Homo sapiens: one gene and its partners. The protein of the gene in region 1 purifies or fractionates together with the protein of each later gene. This does not show direct contact. Each region holds a gene or a part of one and is shown on either strand. Other genes may lie near its edges.

Region 1 (2,843 bases):
GCCCTAGGCAGTGGTTTCTAGGTGGCGAGAATTCCATATGCCTGGCCAGACTCCAAAAAGCTTGCTTCCCAAAAATACCACCCTATACACTCTCCTGGAAATCTACATTGAGACATTGATTTCATTGGGCCAAACAGAGGCCCAATCTCAAGGGACCTTCTAGTAAACTACAAGCCCCTGGGCATTGAGCCCTGAGGCCTCATGGTGAATCACATACTAGCTACTTGCCTCAGTGATAGGAAAACCTGAGAGGAAGCCCCCTGGCTGGTGTGGGGAGGGGAGGTGGAGTTGTTCCCCTGGGGAGGGGCTGCTGCCAGCCTGCATGCTCCTCCAGCACCAGGTAGGGCTGTTCTATCCCCAGACTACTCACTGCTGCTCACCTTCATCTACAACGGGCGCGTGGTGGGCGAGGCCCAGGTGCAAAGCCTGGATTGCCGCCTTGTGGCTGAGCCCTCAGGCTCTGAGAGCAGCATGGAGCAGGTGCTGTTCCCCAAGCCTGGCCCACTGGAGCCCACGCAGCGCCTGCTGAGCCAGCTTGAGAGGGGCATCCTAGTGGCCAGCAACCCCCGAGGCCTCTTCGTGCAGCGCCTTTGCCCCATCCCCATCTCCTGGAATGCACCCCAGGCTCCACCTGGGCCAGGCCCGCATCTGCTGCCCAGCAACGAGTGCGTGGAGCTCTTCAGAACCGCCTACTTCTGCAGAGGTGAGGCTGTTCTCTCTGGGCACATGAGCTTCCACCCCCTACCTCTTAGTACCCCCTGGGCCCAACTTGTTGGGTCCTGCTACCTCCCTATCTGCCAGCAGATCCTCCATGTAGCCTATGCATGGCACTCCTGCGCTTGTGTGTTGCATATCCTGTGTGGCCATATGCCCAGCCTGGCAGCTACCTGGCAGCTCTCCTCCAGCCAAGACAATGGAAGAGGTGGTTCAGGTAGAGCCCAGCACAAGAGTGTCATATCTTGGAGAACACCATCACACTGAAGCATGCAGTCACTATGTGAAGGTGCACAGAAGAATTGGCACAGAGATTTTGAGCCTCATGGCCTTCTCCTACGTACACACATTTGGGAGAGCTGGCACACATCACACACACTGGCCCTGGCTGCACCGTCTTTACCACACTCCAGGCATGCCTTAGGGTTGCGCTTCTCTCCCATCCAATTCCAGCTCCTACTCAATTCTAAACCTGACCTTAAGAGTGGGACCAGGTGTACAGGGGGTGCAGAGTGTGGGTGTTCCCAGGGCCATGGGTGCCCTAGCACTGGGAGGATGTGAGCAAGTAGCAAAGGTCTGGGCACATCTGAGTTAGCAGCCAGGGCTGCTACCTGGGAGGACTCTAAACTCTCCCAGCAGAGAGCTTGTCGGGCTGTGCTGTGATCTGCTACTTCTAAGCACTTATATGAGGCAGGGGCACCCTTTCCTATTTGCACATGGGTGAGTAGCACTTAGTTCCAAGTACTTCTGACCTTGCAGCTCCTGCTCTGGCAAGACCCCCTCCTACCTCTCTCCATCATGGGTTCCTCACTATTGCCTCCCTGCCTGTGGCCCTCTCTCTTCTTTTTGTTCTTCGAACCCTTGACCCTTTCTCTTTCAGACTTGGTCAGGTACTTTCAGGGCCTGGGCCCCCCACCGAAGTTCCAGGTAACACTGAATTTCTGGGAAGAGAGCCATGGCTCCAGCCATACTCCACAGAATCTTATCACAGTGAAGGTGAGCTCGGAGCAGGGGTAGAGTACCCATCTAATGAGAGCAGAGACAGTGGTGCTCCAGGAGGCAAAGGGGGTCTCCCAGTGGGGAAGGAGCTCCTGGGGGTGGTGTCTGTCCCTGATGCACGCACTGAGATGCTCTTCTCCATCTCTTCCAATACAGATGGAGCAGGCCTTTGCCCGATACTTGCTGGAGCAGACTCCAGAGCAGCAGGCAGCCATTCTGTCCCTGGTGTAGAGCCTGGGGGACCCATCTTCCACCTCACCTCTTTGTTCTTCCTGTCTCCTTTGAAGTAGACTCATTCTTCACACGATTGACCTGTCCTCTTTGTGATAATTCTCAGTAGTTGTCCGTGATAATCGTGTCCTGAAAATCCTCGCACACACTGGCTGGTGGAGAACTCAAGGCTAATTTTTTATCCTTTTTTTTTTTTAATTTTGAGATATACGCCCTCTTTCATCTGTAAGGGACTAGGAAATTCCAAATGGTGTGAACCCAGGGGGCCTTTCCCTCTTCCCTGACCTCCCAACTCTAAAGCCAAGCACTTTATATTTTCCTCTTAGATATTCACTAAGGACTTAAAATAAAATTTTATTGAAAGAGGAATCAGTATCTGATTTTCTGGGAGAAGAAGGTAGCAGTGGTCACAGATAGAGATGTAAACTTAAGAGTGGGGCACTGGGGTTCTCTTCCTGCTGACATCTCCAGCCTCTTTCCTCTCCTCTGCCCACAGGTTCTGGCTAAGATGCTGCCTGGGCCCTGTGGGTCCTGGGCCTGGCACTCTACAGAGGTACCCTCTGGGCAGATAAGATTAGGGTGTGGGTTGGGCACCAAGCCTTCAGCCAGGCACTATAGCCACCAACTTCACATGGTAAAGTCTGGGCTCCACAGTTCTTGCTAGAAGGCCCCAACATCGGGCCTGAGGTTAGTTAGATTGGAGGTCTAAATGAAGAGGAGACACTTGAGGGTGACCTGAAACTATGGTCTAGAGGCCCTGGGACCTGAGAACAGAGGAGTCAGAGAGAAGAGTTGCTGAAACTGTACCTGCTGTTACTGGCACCTCTTCCTCCAGCACAATTTCACTGTCACCCCAGCAGGGTACTCCCAAACTGGATTCCTTGCTCTATCTAAGCCCC
Region 2 (5,286 bases), on another chromosome or scaffold:
GCTGCCTCATTTTGGGTTTCAGTGTGAACTCTAAGGTCTCTTGTAACCCTTTGAGAGAGGTACTTGGTGGACTATCATGCTGTGAGAAGGGTACAAGGTTTTTGGTGTTGGAATAGAGGAACTGGTGCTTAGAGGTGGGAAGCAGAAAAGGCACAGGGAGAGACAGGATGGCTATAGGCTGGGACAGCACCTCTTTTCCAAGAGTCCTGCTTTGGAATGGATAGGGGAGGGGCTGCTGGGGGGCCCTGGTTCCAGGAAGGCTGCTTCCTGGGAAGACAGGAACAGCCCTTGGCAGTGGCCAAGCTATTGCTGTTTATGGTTTGGAGGCTCATGTAACCTGCCACTGTAGCGTGCCTCAGGTTCTAATTGCTGCTGGAAGTGGGCCTGGTGGGAGCTGGGAATGATCTGAGGCCTCTGAGCTTAACCAGGCCTGCCAGGGCCTTCAGCTGTGTGGCTGAGATGAGAAAATCAGCATTGAGGAGAACACTGGAGCCAAGGCATTTCTTTGAATGTTTACTAAGCAGTCAGAAGGTGACTTACTCCATTCCCCAGTTCCAGCCCCTGAGCATAGAGGGTTTAGGGTTAGGAGGAGTACCACAGACTGAAGAGGAAGTAGAGTTAAGGGCTTGGCAAGTTGCCCACTCCTATCCCTGGTCTAGCTGCCTCAGAACTAAAGGAGGCCTGGAACTAACAAGTCACTCCCTTCCAGATTAGATGAGGCCAGCTGGCCTTTGGATGCCCCAGGAAGAGGTGGTGGCAGCAGTGGCATGAGGGATCCCTCTGTAACTCCACATGCCAGGTCATCTGCACTGGATTAGATGTCCATTTCAAATTGTGCGTCATCTGGAGAGAGAAAAGGCAGGAAGACAGGTTGCTGGTCTGAGGATCTGCAGGCTCAGCATCAGTGCAGAAACCCCTCTTGGAACTGAACCCCCGCACTGTGTCACAGTGGCATTTGAACTCAAAGGCTGGGACAATTCTTAATTCCTGCTTTCCTTACCGGGTATCTCTTCCTCTGTCTCCTGCTCCTTCAGCTCCTCCAGCTTGGAGAGAGGGGCTGTTGGAGGAGTTGTGACCCCGGGAATCTGAGGGAGGCAGCAGGGGGGTGTCCGGGCAATGGGTGAGTTCTTGCACTCCAGCAGGAACTTTCGGTCGTAGATGATCCTGGTGCCTGTCAAGGGGTTGGGACTGAGGTAAGAGTCAGGAGCTTGGGTACCGAGGTGACTGGGGTCCCAGACTCAGGCCTTTTGGGGCCTGGAGGTGAGGGTGGTGTCAAATTTCCCTGTGTATCAAAGGACATCGGCTCTGAAGCCCAGCTAGGTTCTCAGCAGACAAGCCTTCATAGTGCTTAAAATCTTCCAGACCTAACCAAGATGTGGGTATAAAGCAAGGGGGGCATCCCAGCTGGTATAGGCAGGGGCTTTATGTTTGGGAGAGCTTCAGATCTTGGCTCTAAGAGGAACACCAAACTTTGAGTTCAGGTACTTCATGCTGCTCCTCTACCACTCTGAAACCTCTGCTTTGGTCTCACCAGTGAAGGTGAGACCTAGACTAACAGCCTCAGGTGGTTCAAGAAGTGAAATAGCAGTTGTGAAGGGTTCCACCCAGTGCTGTTACCTGGGCTATCTCCTGCAGGGAGGAGAAACGTACTGTTCTAATCCTGACCCCTCCCAGGTCCTATAAGGTTCACACTAGCTCAGAGGAACTTGGCCCGCATAATGTCCTCAAAGGGTCCTGCCCTGTTCCTCCCCTCCGCTTCCGCGTGGCAGGAATCCCTGGGTCGGGAGCCCAGCAGCTCGTGATCCCAGGCTGCTCGCCCAACCAAACAGACGCCAGCCAGCAGCACAAAAACGGAGCAACTGCCCCAACTGTTCTAACTACTCCACTTCTCAAGACCCGGTGCTTCCGGCTGAGGTCACGCTCAGTAGGGGGCCCTGGCCCCTATTCCTAGGAAGCAAAGTCGCGAGGGGTAAGGAGCGTGTGTAAGGCTCCAAGAACCCAGGCCACAGTGAAGGATTACAGCCCAAACACCCGGAAGCTAGGCTCATGGCCTTGTTGCATCACTTAGAAGTTTTTGGGAACTGAGCTTCCGCTCCAAACATTCTCCCCCAAAGCTACAACCTGTAGAGGGGCCTGCGGACAAGTCTTAGGTCTGTCCCTCCCCTACCCCCGCCCCGCAACAACACGCACGCGCTAATATGTCCGCAGCCTGCGGACCCCTGCCCGGCCCGCTGACCTCCGGGGGTAGTGGCGTATAGCGTGCCCCCCGGCGTGGTGCTGTAGCAGTCGGGCAGCTGGTCCCGGCCCCCGGGAATCGGGCAGCTAGTGGACGTTGACATAGCGAGCGGGAGGAGCAGCAAAGTAACCGCCTGGCGTTGAGGTCGAGGAGCGCAGCTCTGAGTCTGAGGCGGACTCAGCCGACCACGTGCAGCTGCTGGCAACAACACTAGAACAACGTCACGCCCAGGGCGGGCCACCGGCCGTCACTCAACCCGACGGTCCCGCCCTATCTGCTAGGAAGCCAGCCCGGTTCAGAGAAAGCTGGAAATGCGTCCAAAGTCCCAGGCCCCACACCAGCTTCCAGTTCCTGCTGGCCCAGCGCTGGCCAACCTGCCTGAGTGCTGCAGCAGCTCAGCTATTTACTGTTTATAGCCGGGAGCTGGGGGCAGGTGAAGTAGGGCAAGCGTTTTTATCCTGTATTAGTTCACCCATTCCTTGCCAACTTTTGGATAGTAAAGCACTATGATTAGCCAAAGTCACACATCTTGCAGGAAGGGAAGCTGGGATTCAAATCTGACTGCATCTGATTCCAGGACTGTGCCCTTAAGCCCAGCTGTGTACTGCCTCCCATAAACAGTAACAGTACAAGGCCGGGTGCGGTGGCTCACGGCCTGTAATCCCAGCACTTTGGGAGGCTAAGGCGGGTGGATAGCTTGAGCCCAGGAGTCTGAGACCAGCCTGGGCAACATGGTGAAACCTAGACTCTACTAAAAATACAAAAATTAGCCGGGTGCGGCAGCATGCGCCTGTAGACCCAGCTACTCGGGAAGCTGAGGTGGAAGGATAGGTTGAACCCAGGAGGCGGAGGTTGCAGTGAGCGGAGATTGCACCACTGCACTCCAGCCTGGGTGACACATGCCTTGATGGCCTGGAGCACAGCAGGAAGGGGAAGGTCAGTGAGGGCTGGTCATCTTTCTGAAGAAGTGGTACCTGGACTAATAAAAGGATGAGTCAAGTTTGGGGGCTACAGCTGAGGCATCACCAGTCAGAAGGCCTGCCCTTTGATCTCTTTGCCAGTTAACTAAGGAGGGGCAGGGGGCTAGTGAGGAGGGCTTGGTCTTTAGAAGGAAAGAAAGGTCAGAGAGTTTGGCCTTGGAGTTTTTTTTTTGTTTTTTTTTTTTATGTAGACACAGTGATATGACAGGCTGGAGCAAGGTGGTGGGATTGGTGAAGATGTATATATGCTGGAAATCTTGAATTCATCAGGCTGTCCTGTTTGGCTTCCTCAAAATCAATACTGCCTCCACTGTCCCTTCCCCTCACCAAAAATTAAGTATAGACCACCTGACTGCATCCATTTATCAATATTAACTCAGCTCTGGCTTCATCAGATTTCTCCTTAGGTCTGATTTCTTCACTCATTTAAAAAAAGATTGCTTCTCAAACTATTTATTTTCTGAGATAGGGTTTTGCTCTGCTGCCTAGGCTGGAATGCAGTGGTGTAATCTCAGCTCAATGCAAACTCTGCCTCCTGGGTTCAGGCCATCCTCCCACCTCAGCCTCCTGAGTAGCTGGGACCACAGGTGCCCACCACCACACCGGGCTAATTTTTGGATTTTTTATAGAGACAAGGTTTCACCATGTTGCCCAGGCTGGTCTCGAATTCCTGAGCTCAAGTAACCTATCTGCCTCGGCCTCCCAAAGTGCTGGTGTGAGCCACCACACCTGGCCAGCTTCTCAAACTTTAATGTGCATATAAATCATCTGGAGATATTGTTAAAATGATAATTCTGATACAGTATTGGTCTGGGTGAGATTTTGGATTTTTTTTTTTTTTTGACACAGGGTCTCACTGTCACCCAAGCTGGAGTGTAGTGGTACAATCATGGCTCACTGCAGCCTCAACCTCCTGGGCTCAGGTGACCCTCCCACTTCAGTGTCCTCAATAGCTGGGACCACAGGTGCATGCCACTGTACCTGGCTAATTTTTAAATTTTTTGTAAAGGCGGGGTCTCACTATGTTGCCCAGGCTGGTCTCAAACTTGTGGGCCCAAGCGATCCTCCCAAACAGGCATCCTCCGAAACAAGAATTACAGGCATGAGCCACCGTGCCCAGCCAGTTGTGGATTTTTTTTTTTTTTTTTTGAGATGGAGTTTCGCTCTTGCCGCCCAAATGGCATGATCTTGGCTCACCGCAACCTCCGATTCCCGGGTTTAAGCGATTCTCCTGCCTCAGCCTCCTGAGTAGTTGGGATTACAGGCATGTACCACCACACCCAGCTAATTTTGTAATTTTAGTAGAAACAGAGTTTCTCCATGTTGGTCAGGCTGGTCTTGAACTCCCGACCTCAGGTGATCAGCCTGCCTCGGCCTCCCAAAGTGCTACGATTACAGGCATAAGCCACCACACCTGGCTGGTTTTTTTTTTTTTTTAAGATGGAGTCTTGCTCTGTCACCCAGGCTAGAGTTCAGTGGCATGATCTCAGCTCACTGCAACCTCTGCCTCCTGGGTTCAAGCGATTCTCCTGCCTCAGCCTCCTGAGTAGCTGGAATTACAGGAACCCACCACCGCACCGGGCTAATTTTTTGTATTTTTAGCAGACATCAGGTTTCACTATCTTGGCCAAGCTGGTCTCGAACTCCTGATCTCCAGTGATCTGCCTGGCTTGGCCTCCCAAAGTGCTGGAGTTACAGGCATGAGCCACCGGGCCTGACTGCAACTGTGAGTTTTTAATACAGTAATGCAAACGCTTCAGGGCCTCAGAAACACACTTCAGGTATCAAGGGTATGTATATTTTATTGTCCCGAAAAGGATTTTGAGTATCTTACAAAATGGTGCATGCCAAAATGAAGTGTCTTAGCAGTGCTGGAGGGTAAAGCTTGGGAACAGATTGTAGTGAATCATTTATGATAACTAACCTTTTATGCAACGTGAGGAAGTGTCTGACAGGGGGAATGGGAGAATAGGGTGGAGGATGGTGAGATTTGAGGGTAGAGTCCAGTCTAGTGAAACCAGGTGGGCAAACGGGCGATGGCTGTGAGGATGGAGAGAAGTGGATGAGATT
Region 3 (7,042 bases), on another chromosome or scaffold:
TATTGTCCTCTGTGAGCTCATAGCCAGTCCCGCAGCTGCTGTCCCGCTGGCAGCGGAAAGAGCCCACTGTGTTGATGCAGGATTCTCCAAGCCGGCAGCTGTGGCTGCCCGTGATGCATTCATTGACATCTAGGAGAGACCGAGGCAGTGCGGGGGTGACCAGCAAGAACGACCCATCCTAATACATCCTAGAAAGGAATGTGCCAAAGCCACGGTGGAAGTGCTTCCCTGCACCCTCGCAAACTGAGCTCAGGTCCACCATGTGCACATCCGGGCTGTGGACTGCACGGAGTCGAAAGCAGTGATTTCTCTCCCCTGCTAACGTTCATATCTACTGCTTTTTCTGAGACTGTAGTTATGTGGTCCTCAAGAACCCCACGGAGGGGCAGCATCTTCTCCATCTCCCCCATCTCACAGACGCGGGGGCCAGGAGAGGCTGAAGGATGTGCCCAAGGCCACTCAGCAGATCCTGGATCCGGAACCTGGTTAGACCCCAACTCCATCCTCTTTCCCAACCCCAGTGCTTATATTGTCTTGGAGGGAAGTCTCGGCAGGGGCCTCTGCGCTGCAAACTCCAGCGAACACGAGAAAGCGCGTCCTGGGCTGCTCTCCACCCCTGAATGGGGTCTGGGTTGTAGAAGGCAGGCCCTGGTCAGTCCTCCAGCACAGAGCTCCCAAGCACAGTGACCGGCCAGTCCTGCTGGCACCTGGGATAGGGACATTACCTTCACAGGAGACACCATCAGACAGCAGCTGGTAGCCCACGAAGCAGGAGCAGACCACCTCGTCACCCGTGTCTCGGCACTGCTGCTTGCAGGGCCCGCCTCCTGGAAGCACAGCGTGCATGAGCCAGGGATGGACGCACCCAGGCACCGCCTGGTTTCTAGCTCCGTTCAGGCTGGGTCATAGAAAACGCCCTCTGGGCAGACGAACCCAGGAAGGCAGGCTGACCTGGCTGGAGCCCACCTGCTGCCCTACTGGGAGACCCCCAGGCTCTGGCTCTGGACACCCCCCAGGGGCTGCTGCTTCAGGTCCCAACCTCCCCGTCTGGAAAATCAGGTGGTGTGCAGGGTGCCCTTTGTAGGCTGGGGTGGACCTGGAAGGGGCGAAGCAGAGAAGAGCTCACTGCCGGTCACAGACATGGGGGTGTGGGCTCCACGTGGAAGGCCAGGCCCCAACTAGGCCTCATGTACCTGCTCCTCACTGAACTCTCGAGCTGTCCCACTGCTCCAAGCCCACTACCATGGCCTCAGTTCCTGCAGCTGCCCACCTGGCTGTGGCCACAGCCTCCTACCTGGTCTTTCTGCATAGCCCAGAAGCACCCCACAACCTGTTCTTCCTACAGGGTGGCCAGAGTGATGCTCAGAGTGCAAATCTCATCAGGATAAGCCTCAACCAGGGAAAGATTCTACGAGATACACTTCTAACTGCTGCCAGCCTGCCTGCTTCTAGGGCCCCTCTCTCTGGCCCTGTAACCCCACCTCCTTCCCCAGCCCACTGCCTCCCAGTACCCTGCTACAGTGGGTCCGTGCCCTTTACAAGGCTTCAGGTCTCCCTGAGGACCGTTTCAGGGTTATTTTCCCAGCTAATCCCACCTCCTCCTTGCAGACCAGCTCTCCCCTCCCCAGAAAGCTCCTCCCATAGCCCTGAGGCTTGCTGGGGCTCTAGGTCACTCCCTTCCTCCCTCCACCAGGCCCCTGGACAGCGCCCCTGGACCAACTGTCACTGTACACTGACTGCATCATTTAAGAATTAAACTGGCCCCTAATTAACACCCTAACCACAGGGGGAACCACTGAAAGAGCTTGTGAGGCAGATCTGCAGGTCTAGACATGCCAGAATGTTCCATGAAAGAAAAGCAGTTTTATCATATGAAAAACAAACCTGCGAGGCCCTTAGTTAAATGTGCAGACATCTCCCTGTGAGGCAAATGAATATCACCAATGGTGACAGAACCGTGGCTGGGGCTCCAGGGGCACAAAGGCAGGGAACGCTGAGCCCCCTCCTCTCCCCTGAGAGCCTGAGGGAGGCCTCTGTCACCTTCACAAGGCCTGGGGGCTCGGTAACGTGCAGGCTTTCCACACCAGCTCTGGCCCTGGGCCTGGGCCACCCTCCCCAGCAGGGCCTCACCAGGGCCCCTCCTTGGTAAGCCCACCCTTCCCCTCCCCAGCCAGCCCTAGATCTGGAAGGGGAAAGGGAAGGAGGAGCTGGGAGTCCACGACTCCTCAGGGTGGAAGTGGCTCATGGCTGGCTCCCAGCCAAAGGGTACTTTGCAGGGTAAACCAAAGCAAAACCTGGATTCCAACTTCCAGTGAGATCAGCACCGAGATTCCTTGGTTTTGCTTTTTGTTTGTTTGTTTTTTTGTTTTTGAGACGGGGTCCAGCTCTGTTGCCCAGGCTAGAGTGCAAAGGTGCAGTCATAGCTCACTGCAGCCACAACCTCCTGGGCTCAAGGAATCCTCCTGCCTTGGCTTCCCAAAGTACTAGGATTACAGGCCTGAGCCACCTTGCTGGCCCCTTGGGGTTTGTTTAAATACCAACTGATGGGAGACGCCCGAGTCTCACCTCGGCAGCGGTCATTCAGATATGGGTCCTCTTGTTCCTCCTCAACCTCAATGATCTTATCTAAGGGGGAAAAAGACCAAGTCAGACATTTATCCAAACACCCATCTTATCTTAAAAGAAACTCCCAACATTCTCTCTTCTTGTCACTATCAGGCAGTAATGCCCATTTGAACATCTTATATAAACAGCTAAGTATTAACTTTATCCTCTTTAAGCTAGAATTACACTTGAAAATGTATAATTGATATCTGATCAATTATAGGCCAGGCGTGGTGGCGGGCACCTGTAATCCCAGCACTTTGGGAGGCCGAGGCAGGCGGATCACCTGAGGTCAGGAGTTCAAGACCATCCTGGCCAACACGGTGAAATGCTGTCTCTACTAAAAATACAAAAATTAGCCAGGTGTAGCGGCATGCACCTGTAATCTCAGGTACTCAGGAAGTTGAGGCAGGATAATCGCTTGAACTCAGGAGTCGGAGGTTGCAGTGAGTCAAGATCACACCATTGCACTCCAGCCTGGGCAACAAGAGCGAGACTCCGTTTCAAAAAAAAAAGATCAGTTATAACAGAAAGACCACAGACACAAAGGCCTGTAATCATTGACTTCATGCTGGGTGATATTCCCATAGTCCAAATTACTTGACCATCTCAGCAAATGCAGTCACAGCCTTGCTAACAACCAACACACGCCCTCCAAGTCTAAAGCAATGCACGCAGTAAAAACTTGAGTCTCCTGATTGATTCTATCAAATGCTATTATGTGTTTGAAAAGGGTTATTCTCCATTTCTGTACTTATTTGTCGCAGGCCAGCACTGGTCTGGGGACCTTCTGCATGGCCCCCAGGAAACATACAGTGGGTCCATGGCACTGGTAGCAGTGGGAGGAAGGTGCGGCTGTGAAGACAGGAAGCCCTCCCAGAGGAGGGAGCATGCGAGGATAGTCTGGGGCAAGGACTGAAGCAGATAAAAGACGGAGAGATAAAACATCTAACATCTGGAGCTGCAGAAAAGCCCAGAGACTGCTCACGCTGCAGACATAAATCAGTGAAAATCCACCCCCGAGATGCAGGAGAAATCCTCCACCAGCAGGAATGGTTTGGGTTTGTTTAAAGTGAAAATGTCGTCTCTGATTTCAAAAGCCAAGGAATGAGGCAGAATGCGGCCCCAATCCCTCTTGATGACTGTAACATCTGAAATCATCTCAGTGGCATCCATGGGGCCCTGGACTTGAAAAACTAAGAACAATAAGTGAAAGATGAGTCCCGGGTGACCCGGGTCCTCTGTGACCAGGGGCCCTACAGCCTGGACTTGAAAACCTAAGAACAAGAAGTGAAAGGTTCCGTGTCACCCAGGACCCTACAGCCATTACCTTGACTTAGAGACTACAGGTCTGAGGGTTCTTCCCTTTCGCCCCTTCCGGCACCTCCCCACCTCTTTATTTATTTTATTATTTTTTTTGAGACTGAGTCTCGTTCTGTCACCCAGGCTGGAATGCAATGGCGCCATCTCGGCTCACTGCAACCTCCGCCTCCCAGGTTCAAGCGATTCTCCCTGCCTCAGCCTCCCAAGTAGCTGGGATTACAGGCGCCCGCCACCACGCCCAGCTAATTTTTGTATTTTTAGTAGAGACAGGGTTTCCCCATGTTGGCCAGGCTAGTCTCGAACTCCTGACCTCAGGTGATCCGCCTGCCTCGGCCTCCCAAAGTGCTGGGATTACAGGCGTGAGCCACCGTGCCCAGCTCACACCTCTTTTATTTTTTAAGAGAGTGGGGGCAAAGCTCAGAGAGAGGAGGGAACAGGCCGAAAACTACACAGCAAGCTTGGCCCAGGCGGAGTCCTGCCTTCTTCCAGGTTAATTCTGTTACAGCACAAGAAACCGTGGCCTAAGTGTAAGAGGCTACTGGACAGCCACAAAGTCTCCTGAACCCTGTAACTGAACCACACAGAAATGCAGGGCGAGGACACAGAACGGGGGGGCACACAGCTGAGAGCGCTCTTGAAGCTGCTCTTGGGGTCACATGCCCCTTTGCTGAGTAAGTGTCTATGATTTGACAGAGCATAGCCAGCTATTAGCCAGCGATGGCCCCCAGCTGCTCGCCCATACATCGTCAGCTCCAGATGGAGAGGGCACTGGCCAGGAGGTGGAAGGCCAGGCTCTCCCTCCTCCACGTGTCGGCTGTGCGATCTTCAGCATCAGACCCTCACCCAAGAAGTGGGAGCAAGGCCAGCCACCCATGCTGCCCCGGGCAGCTGAAGGGACAAGGGCAGATGGTGAGGGCAGACATTTATGGGGCCAGGTGCTCTACCCAACCCTTGACACCCAATCTCGCACTCCATCCTCCCAGCACCTGATGAAGTAGGACTGCAACTATCCCCACTTCCCAGATGAGGGGACCAAGGTACACATTAGGACCCGGATGGGAGCACAGATTTGTCCGATCCCAGACTCCAAGCACTCAGCGTCACTCCAGGACAGCGGCTTTCAGATAAGGTCACAAACATGAATGGCTCCGACAACCGGAGTTAGTCCGTGCTGAGTTAAGGCAATGGTGACACGGATGCACGTGTTACCTGTAATGGTTCATCGTAAGTGTCAATTGGGCTGGGGTATGGTACTCAAATATTTAGTCAAACACTAGCCTGGATGTTGCTGTGAAGCTATATTTTAGAGATTAATATTGGCCAGGCACGATGGCTCACACCTGTAATCCTAGCACTTTGGGAAGCTGAGGCAGGTGGATTACCTGAGGTCAGGAGTTCCAGATCAGCCTGGCCAACATGGTGAAACCCCATCCCTACTAAAAATACAAAAATTAGCCAGGTGTGGTAGTGTACACCTGTAATCCCAGCTACTCGGGAGGCTGAGGCACAAGAATCACTTGAACCCGGGAGGCGGAGGTTGCCGTGAGCCAAGATCACACCACTGCACTGCACTCCAGCCTGGGTGACAGAGAGAGATTCTGTCTCAAAAAAAAAAAGAGATTAACATGTAAGTCTGTTGATGCTGAGAAAAGCAGATCATCTTCATACCATGGGTGGGCCTCACTCAATCAGCAGAAGGCCTTCAGAGAAAAAAGACTGGCCTCCCCGGGAAAGGCGGCGTTCTGCCAGCACACTGCCTTTGAACTCCAGCTGCAATGCCCCTCCTTCCCTGGGGCTCCAGCCTGAAGGCCTGCCCTGCAGATTTTGGACTTGCCAGCCCCACGATCACATGAGCCAAGTCCTTAAAATCTCTCTCTCTCCACTCTCGCTCTATATACACATCCCGGAGAACCTTAATACACTGCTCATTAGGGAAGGAAGGGGGAAAGTTACCCGTTTCTTGGAGGCCCCCGACATCCAAATCTCCGGTCTCCTGGCTCTTGACACAGCATGCCTGGAAGACCTGTCCACACTGGTAGCCAACCATGAGGCTGTACTCGCAGCTCTGGCCCTGGGCCTGGGCCGCCCTCCCCAGCAGACAGCAATGGCAGCACCTCTGCAAACACAGGTGGAGATCCCAGATGGAGGAGCGGGCAGACAGCCCAGCGGGGTCCACGAGAGGCCTCAGGGGAGGCCTCTCTGAGCCCCCTGTCCACACAACCTGTAGAGTGATGACTCAAGTCTGGCTTAGATACCACTTCTAAATGTCAGCAACAAATAGCAAAGCAAGGCCATCCCCCTACTCCAAATCATCTAGGTCCCAGTTTTGAAAGGAAGCTTAAAGGGCCTGGCATCCACCTCCCCTCCCCACCCCAACATGCAATTGCACCCCTCAACATCCCTGCCCCGCCCAGAGACCACCCGGCTCTGCTCGCACACATCCAGGAAGAGGGAGCTTCTTATAGCACCATGCACCAGCTCCAAAGTTCTGTTCCTTTTGCATGGTCTGAGATTTCTCTACCATGCCCGGAAAAATGACACACATGCATGCTGCCTCTCCGTTTTTGAGTTAGAGGGGTTCTGGCAGCAGGAATTGCACCGTGCATTTGAAAGCACAGGAACTTCAAGACGAGTCATCAAGCAAGGTCAAAGGACAGGGTGGCTGTCTGCCACCTGGGCCCAGGTCCCAATAGTTACTTCCAAGTCCCTGTGGCCTCACACCTGAGTCCCAGAAGCAACATTTGCCCTGACACACGAAAAGCCCTGCTTCAGTCTTTATTAAGTGGTTATCCTAAGAGGAGCACAGAACTTTCTAAACAGTCCCCAGCAGGAGCCAGGAGGTGTAGCTTTGCCTCAGTTATGTGGCACTGATGGGTCTTCCAGGCTGCTTATTCTACGCCCTCCGCTGCCAGAAAGTGTAGGGAGCATCAGTCACCTCATCCATCTTTTGGGGTGTGAGTAATCCTTCCTGGAAACACAAGTCGCTCATCTGCCAGAGAGATCTGTTCCCACTCCTGCTAGAATGTTCTGTGCTTTTTCCACACCTCTCAAGTCTGGGGACATGGGCACAGCTGTGTGCCGGACCGACGGCATCTGCAAGGCCCAGCCCTGCATT
Region 4 (7,042 bases), on another chromosome or scaffold:
AAGGCTTTGTTTCCATTTTGCATATTCTTATAGGTGAAACAAACATATGTAATAATTATTCCTATTTGTAACTAAATAGTTAAATTATGTTATTTATGTGATGACAGAAGCTGGAGAAATTTGTATTGCCAAGATGGTTATATATGTTGGTGGGGATGAGCTGGGTAGCTCATGTAGAAATATATCTGGGCATCTTAAACTTTGCTCACTTATTTAAACTAGTAATCTACTAAACTGAGTCATTCACACTTACGAATAGTATCTTTGAATGGGATCTAGTCATATCAAAAATTCTAGAGAGAAAATATTTTCCAACACTTAAAATGCTTACATTTTTCTTTAAGTCCTACGTGTTTTTGACTGACTTTTAATCTGGGTGCAAATGTAAGGTTATTGCCATCACTGATGCTTTGTTGATTTTTTTGTATATTATTACTGATTATATGTTTTTTTCTGAGTTTTTCCTTTCTTGAGTGAATAATGTTTTTATTTTTCAATACAATGAATAATAGTATTGACAATCCTATAAAATATCTGATAGTTACATCTATTGAGCACCCACCATTTGCTAAAAACACTGTGTTAAATGCTTTATATACAGTATCTCTTAGACTACTCACAACATCCCTGAGATAGGTCCTGTTTCCCCCCGTGGTCAAACTCCATCTCTTAAGAAACATAAGAAATTTTCAGAGATATAAAATACATAATTTCTTTTAACTCAGTTTTCTTTCTTTTTTTTTTTTTTTTTTTTTTTTTTTTTTTTGAGATGGAGTCTCACTCTGTTGCCCATGCTGGAGTGCAGTGGTGCGATCCTAGCTCACTGCAACCTCCGCCTCCCAGGTTAAAGCGATTCTCCTGGCTCAGCCTCCCGAGTAGCTGGGCTTACAGGCGCGTTCCACCACTCCCAGCTAACTTTGTGTTTTTAGTAGAGACGGGGTTTTGCCATGGTAGCCAGGCTGGTCCTGAACTCCCAACCCTCCTGACCTGAGGTGATCTGCCCACCTCAGCCTCCCAAAGTGCCAGGATTATAGGCGTGAGCCATCGCTCCTGGACTTAACTCAGTTTTCAAACCACATTTTGAGATCTCAAATAGAACTTCAATGTTCATTTTAAAAATAGTTGGACTTTCAGATACTGATTTTTTAACAAAGTTTCAAAATAAATATTGAATTTAGGAAACACATACTCCCTGCTATTTATGTGAGAAATACTTGAACTTGTCTCCCTCCCCTCCCCCACCCTTTTTTTTAGATGTAGTCTAGCTCTGTCACCCAGGCTGGAGGGCAGTGGCGTGATCTCAGCTCACTGCAGCCTCCACCTGGGTTCAAGCAATTCTTCTGCCTCAGCCTCCCAAGTAGCTGGGATTACAGGCATGTACCACCACACCTGGCTAACTTTCTGTTTTTTTTAGTAGAGATGGGGTTTCACCATGTTGGCCAGGCTGGTCTCAAACTCCTGACCTCAGGTGATTCACCCGCCTCGGCCTCCCAAAGTGCTGGGATTACAGGCGTGGGCCACTGCGCCCAGCCCCCTTTTTTTGAATTGTACACAGGATATTTTTATCTAATTGACTTTTTTACAAACTAAAATCTAGAATTCCTTTTATTTACTTTTATTTTTGGAAATTTTTTTTCCTCCCTGTTGGCAATGCAAAAAGCTACTATTTAATGTATGTGCACTAAATATCAGGTGCTGTGTTAAGTATTTTATCTGCATTGCCTCAGTGGTCTTTCCAATAACCTTCCAAGGCAGGTACCATTATTTTCGCCATTCTACATATAGGGAAAATTGAAGCTCAGAGAAGTTAAATTACTTGCCCAAGATCAGAAAGTCAGTGTTGGAACTAATATTTAAATGTAGGTCTGTCTGATTCCAAAGCTTGTGATTTTACTATTACTACATATTACTGCTATGGAAATTTCTGTTTTTGTGTTTTTCTATGTACAAATAACCTTACTCTTTTAAGTGGAATTTAGCAATATGAATATTGTTTTTCAGCTGTGAGTACCAGAGTGCCCACTGGTTCCAACAGTTCTTCTCAGACCACAGAGTGTCTTACACCTGAATCCTGTTCGCAGACTACAAGCAATGTGGCTTCCCAATCGATGCCTCCTGTGTATCCTTCAGTTGACATTGATGCACATGTGAGTAGATTGCTTTATTTAAACTTATTTTGCACATTCTGATCTTCTTTGGAAAGGAAAATTATTCTGCATTTATTGTGAAAAGAAATATTATTTGCTCTTAAATTGATAACTTCTGTTAAAAAAAATTTTAACTTATTTTTTTCTTCTCCTAGACTGAGAGCAATCATGACACAGCATTAACACTAGCTTGTGCAGGTGGTCATGAAGAACTTGTATCTGTGCTCATTGCACGGGATGCCAAAATTGAACACAGAGACAAAAAAGGTAAATATCAGTCAGAAATAAAATCCAAGTGTAGTTACATCAGAAAATAATTAACTTTTTTATTATTGATAAATAGTTCCTAGACTATCTCAGTGATAAGATGGATAAGTATATTTCAGTTAGGAATATCTGGATTCATTATTCTGCGGAGCCAAATAATTCTCAAAACATTCAAAAATTAGACGTAGATCATTAGTGAAATAGAGCAAGTTGTGGTTGCCTTTGTTAATCCAAAGGTAGTTCATACAGAGGCATCAAAGTTCATTATGAGTATAAACTTTAATAATTTTTACCGACTTAGTTTTTTAATTAGGTGTTTATGGGTTTTTTGTCACTAACAAATTAGGGTTTAGAGCAGTTTTATGTTAACTCATTATCAGTGTCTGCCCTGAAGGATTTATTTTGCTAAAATACTAGAGAATTGTAAACAGTGGCTTTAAAATAAAATAAAAAACATAAATTTGTTTAAGATTTTCATTTTCTGATTTAGGTTTCACACCACTAATCCTGGCAGCAACAGCAGGGCATGTTGGAGTTGTTGAAATCCTTTTGGATAAAGGTGGAGATATAGAAGCACAGTCTGAACGAACTAAGGATACTCCGCTTTCATTGGCATGTTCTGGTGGACGTCAGGAGGTGTGTTAATGTTAATTTTCATTTTGTAAATATTTTGCTTGTATTTTAAAATATGCATATGATTCGTATTTTAGCTACATGAATAAAATTTGCATGTATTTTGTGTGTTTGTTTTTCTGAGGCAGGGTCTTGCTCTGTCTCCCAGGCTAGAGTACAGTGGTGCAATTACAGCTCGCTATAACCTTGAACTCTGGGGCTCAAGCAATCCTCAGCCTCCCAAGTAGCTAGGGCTGTTTTGTAGAGATGGGGTCATGTAATGTTGCCCTGGCCGATTTCAAACTCCTGGCCTCAAGCAATCCTCTCTCCTCGGCCTCCCAAAGTACAGGGATTATAGTTATGGGCCAGCATGCCTGGCCCTGCACGTATTTTAACATGTTCCATATACTTTCTGAGGAATGGGTACTTCTGTTAACTTTTATGGGAATGTAAATGCCCTTTTTTTTTGGCGGGGGTTTGTGGAGGGAACAGGAGGGTGGAGATGAGGTCTCATTATGTTGCCCAAGCTGGCCTTGAACTCCTGGCCTCAAGGGATCCTCCTGCCTTGGCCTCCCAAAGTGCTGGGATTATAGGCATGAGCCACCATGCCTGGCCATAAATCCCCTTTTAAAAAATCTGTTTCTTGCCCTTAAAGCCAAATAAAAATTATCTTAATCCTTACATTTATTCGGATTGAATGAATCACAATTCTAACACATATGAAGTGCAAATTTATTGCCCAATAAATGGCAAATAGAAAGGGTAACATCTTGTTATTGCAGTATAATTGGGATTTCAAAACTCTGAATTCCTGAAATTGAATCCATTTCTCTAGTGTTGATATTTCAATATTTAGGGTCTAATGAAATGTAATTAAAATATCAGATATTTAGATAAGGAAGTTATAAGTCCTGTTTCTTTGTGTTTCCTTCATTATAAGTTGAGCCCTTGGTGTAAACTCTCTTCTCTATCCATATTTTACTTTGTAGGTGGTAGACTTGCTGCTGGCTCGAGGTGCAAATAAAGAACATAGGAACGTATCTGATTATACACCACTGAGTCTAGCTGCGTCTGGAGGATATGTTAATATCATTAAGATTCTGCTTAATGCTGGGGCAGAAATTAATTCAAGGTATTGCCTGTTCATTTTATTGTTCATGTTTAGTAAGTTACTACTTTGGACTTAAATGTCTACCTCTTAACGTTTAGACAGATACATTTTAAATTAAGATAGTACTAAAGTTGCAAAGCCAACGATTATACCTATAATGTGTTTGTTTATAAGTAATCTCAGCTTATTTCAGTAATGTGGCTGCTTATAAAGAGGTCTCATTTCAAAAAGTGTTTTGTTCTATGGCCTACCACCCTAAACGTGCCCAATCTCATCTGATCTCAGAAACGGTATTTTATTTTATATAGTTGGAAATTTATAATCCCTAAATAGGAATTACATTTTATTTTTTAAGTTATTTATTTTTTGAGATGGAGTTTCGCTCTTGTTGCCCAGGCTGGAATGCAATGGCGCGATCTTGGCTTACCGCGAACTCTGCCTCCGGGGTTCAAGCGATTCTTATGCCTCAGCCTCCCAGGTAGCTGGGATTACAGGCATGCGCCACCACACCCAGCTAATTTTGTATTTGTAGTAGAGATGGGGTTTCTCCATGTTGGTCAGGCTGGTCTCAAACTCCCGACCTCAGGTGATCTGCCCTCCTTGGCCTCCCAAAGTGCTGGGATTACAGGCATGAGCCACCATGTCTGGCCGGAAATTATGTTTTAAATTGTGACATTTTCTTATTCTTTATTATTGGTCGAAACAAGTAAAATCTATTCATTGATGTTAGAAACCTCTCTTTTTAGTGAAACCTTTTCATCTTTAATGCTTTTCTAAAATAATAGGCAACATATTATTTTAATTTTCTAAGCACATTTCCCCCTTTAGGACTGGGAGTAAACTAGGTATTTCTCCCCTGATGTTGGCTGCAATGAATGGACATGTTCCTGCAGTAAAATTGCTGCTCGATATGGGTTCAGACATTAATGCCCAAATAGAGACCAATCGGAACACGGCTCTCACCCTGGCCTGTTTCCAGGGCCGAGCAGAAGTAGTGAGTTTGCTTCTGGACCGAAAAGCCAATGTTGAACATAGGGCAAAGGTAAGCATTTTTTACTTGTCAACTATTTCAGATACATTTCTGTAGAAAGAACATGGCATTTTAACGCAAATTGAATATAATATTTTAAATTATCATAAATTAAAACTGATACCAATGCAGAGTTGAGGGATTATGCTGTATAATAGTGAGTGACATACTGTCACCATCATGACTTTTATTAAGGACAATGAAGAAAACAGAATTAGTACTTTTCCCAACCTCAGCCTTGAGTAGCTTTCTATTAATACTGCAGCTTACAACTTTTGAATGTAGTAAGATTATTTTGTATTAACTCTTACACTGTAGACTTTTAAAGAACACCTTTAATGAGGTATGTGCTTATCATTGTAAAAATCCCAAGCAAAAATTTAATTCACAAGTTATAAAATTAGGGCAGCTAACATCTAATTTGACCATGGCAGATTTTGACAGTTTCATGACTATTTGGTATTAAGAAAATAGGAGTTAGTGGAGGCTGGGCGCGGTGGCTCACTCCTGTAATCCCAGGACTTTGGGAAGCCTAGGCAGGTGAATCACATGAGGTCAGGAGTTTGAGACCAGCCTGACCAATATGGTGAAACCCCCGTCTCTACTAAAAGTACAAAAAATTAGCTGGACGTGGTGGCAGGCGCCTTTAATCCCAGCTACTCAGGAGGCTGAGGCAGAAGAATCACCGGAACTTGGGAGGTGGAGGTTGCACTGAGCAGAGATCACGCCATTGCACTCCAGCCCGTGCAACAAGAGAGAAACTCCATCCCACCCCCCGCCCCCACAAAAAAGAAAGAATAAAGGAGAAAAGTCATAAGATAATCTCCATAGATGCAGGAAACACACACAGAGGAAAGAAAATAGGAGTTAGTATGTCATTGGCTTGAATTTCTTTGCTTAGAACTGCAAGGTTCTTAGAACTCTGGAAAGACGTAGGTTGGGTAGAATTTTTAATAATTAGTCAACAGAGAATCTAGTGCTCATTTGAAATTGGAAAGATTTGACTGGAAATCTCGTACTTCTTCCCTGAAATTCCTTTTACTTCTTAAAGTTTAGTGCAACATTTACATTCTTTTAATCTAAGTAATGAGGAAGTGTAGTTTTTCCTTGGCTTTTTACCACACAAAGAGAAATGAGTCTTTCCTGTCATTCAATTTGTCTTTTTCTATTACAAGTATTCATTGTGTGCCACTCATCCATTAAAGGTCCTAGAGAAATCTGTGTTATTTTGGATAGTACCAGTAGGAAATGTCCTTTGAAAAAATGTTGGAGACTAACGTACCAAAGGCACATATGCAAAAAATTTATAAAGTGATTTTAATCTACTTATTTTTAATATCTCTATTCATTATGCAAAGAAATTATCTGAGTAAATTCACAAAAGTATAGAAGTTACAGAATTGTTTTTAGCATGAGATAACATGTTTTAAGTTCATTCTAGCACGTCTGAATCTAACAATTTCTACTGCTGTTTAGTAAAATTCAAGGCAAAATATTGCTTAGCTCTTTTATGAGAGCTAATCAGAACTAGAATTGTCTTAAAAGTTAATTGCCTCAGGTTTTTAAAGAAATTATGTAGCTTAGTTTTGGTCTACGGAATAGTTAAAAAAAGAAATGTAACTTAGTTGCATAATTTATTGGTTTAAACAGACGGGTCTTACCCCCTTGATGGAAGCAGCTTCTGGAGGGTATGCAGAGGTTGGAAGAGTTCTTCTTGATAAAGGAGCAGATGTTAATGCTCCCCCTGTGCCTTCCTCAAGAGATACTGCTTTAACAATAGCAGCAGACAAAGGTCACTACAAATTTTGTGAACTCCTGATTCATAGGTGAGTACTTTTCTATTATATGTAGAACTTCTCATGGTCATTTTCACTT

What was found.
Region 2: the proteins of IRF9 (region 1) and ANKHD1-EIF4EBP3 purify together in Homo sapiens (affinity purification with mass spectrometry, with the first as the bait; 2 studies listed by BioGRID). This does not show direct contact.
Region 3: the proteins of IRF9 (region 1) and FBLN1 purify together in Homo sapiens (affinity purification with mass spectrometry; 2 studies listed by BioGRID and IntAct, with this or other methods). This does not show direct contact.
Region 4: the proteins of IRF9 (region 1) and ANKHD1 purify together in Homo sapiens (affinity purification with mass spectrometry, with the first as the bait; 2 studies listed by BioGRID). This does not show direct contact.

The regions. Positions count from the first base shown.
Region 1 is NC_000014.9:24,164,253-24,167,095, forward strand, and holds the end of IRF9 (interferon regulatory factor 9), read left to right. Parts: intron 1-334; coding exon of another isoform or gene 335-361; coding exon 362-703; intron 704-804; coding exon of another isoform or gene 805-931; intron 932-1,594; coding exon 1,595-1,710; intron 1,711-1,869; coding exon 1,870-1,944; coding exon of another isoform or gene 1,945-2,003; 3' UTR 2,004-2,313; downstream 2,314-2,843.
Region 2 is NC_000005.10:140,544,791-140,550,076, reverse strand, and holds the end of ANKHD1-EIF4EBP3 (ANKHD1-EIF4EBP3 protein), read right to left. Parts: intron 2,416-5,286; exon of another isoform or gene 2,340-2,415; coding exon of another isoform or gene 2,237-2,339; intron 1,172-2,236; coding exon 1,001-1,171; intron 844-1,000; coding exon 840-843; coding exon of another isoform or gene 815-839; 3' UTR 501-814; downstream 1-500. Other genes in the region: EIF4EBP3 (eukaryotic translation initiation factor 4E-binding protein 3), read right to left, coding at 815-843, 1,001-1,171, 2,237-2,339. UniProt on the Homo sapiens protein: May play a role as a scaffolding protein that may be associated with the abnormal phenotype of leukemia cells. Isoform 2 may possess an antiapoptotic effect and protect cells during normal cell survival through its regulation of caspases.
Region 3 is NC_000022.11:45,526,848-45,533,889, reverse strand, and holds part of FBLN1 (fibulin-1 isoform D precursor), read right to left. Parts: intron 6,044-7,042; coding exon 5,881-6,043; intron 2,626-5,880; coding exon 2,566-2,625; intron 828-2,565; coding exon 726-827; intron 130-725; coding exon 1-129. UniProt on the Homo sapiens protein: Incorporated into fibronectin-containing matrix fibers. May play a role in cell adhesion and migration along protein fibers within the extracellular matrix (ECM).
Region 4 is NC_000005.10:140,502,820-140,509,861, forward strand, and holds part of ANKHD1 (ankyrin repeat and KH domain-containing protein 1), read left to right. Parts: intron 1-2,001; coding exon 2,002-2,147; intron 2,148-2,302; coding exon 2,303-2,414; intron 2,415-2,904; coding exon 2,905-3,050; intron 3,051-4,015; coding exon 4,016-4,158; intron 4,159-4,965; coding exon 4,966-5,179; intron 5,180-6,817; coding exon 6,818-6,993; intron 6,994-7,042. Other genes in the region: ANKHD1-EIF4EBP3 protein, read left to right, coding at 2,002-2,147, 2,303-2,414, 2,905-3,050, 4,016-4,158, 4,966-5,179, 6,818-6,993. UniProt on the Homo sapiens protein: May play a role as a scaffolding protein that may be associated with the abnormal phenotype of leukemia cells. Isoform 2 may possess an antiapoptotic effect and protect cells during normal cell survival through its regulation of caspases.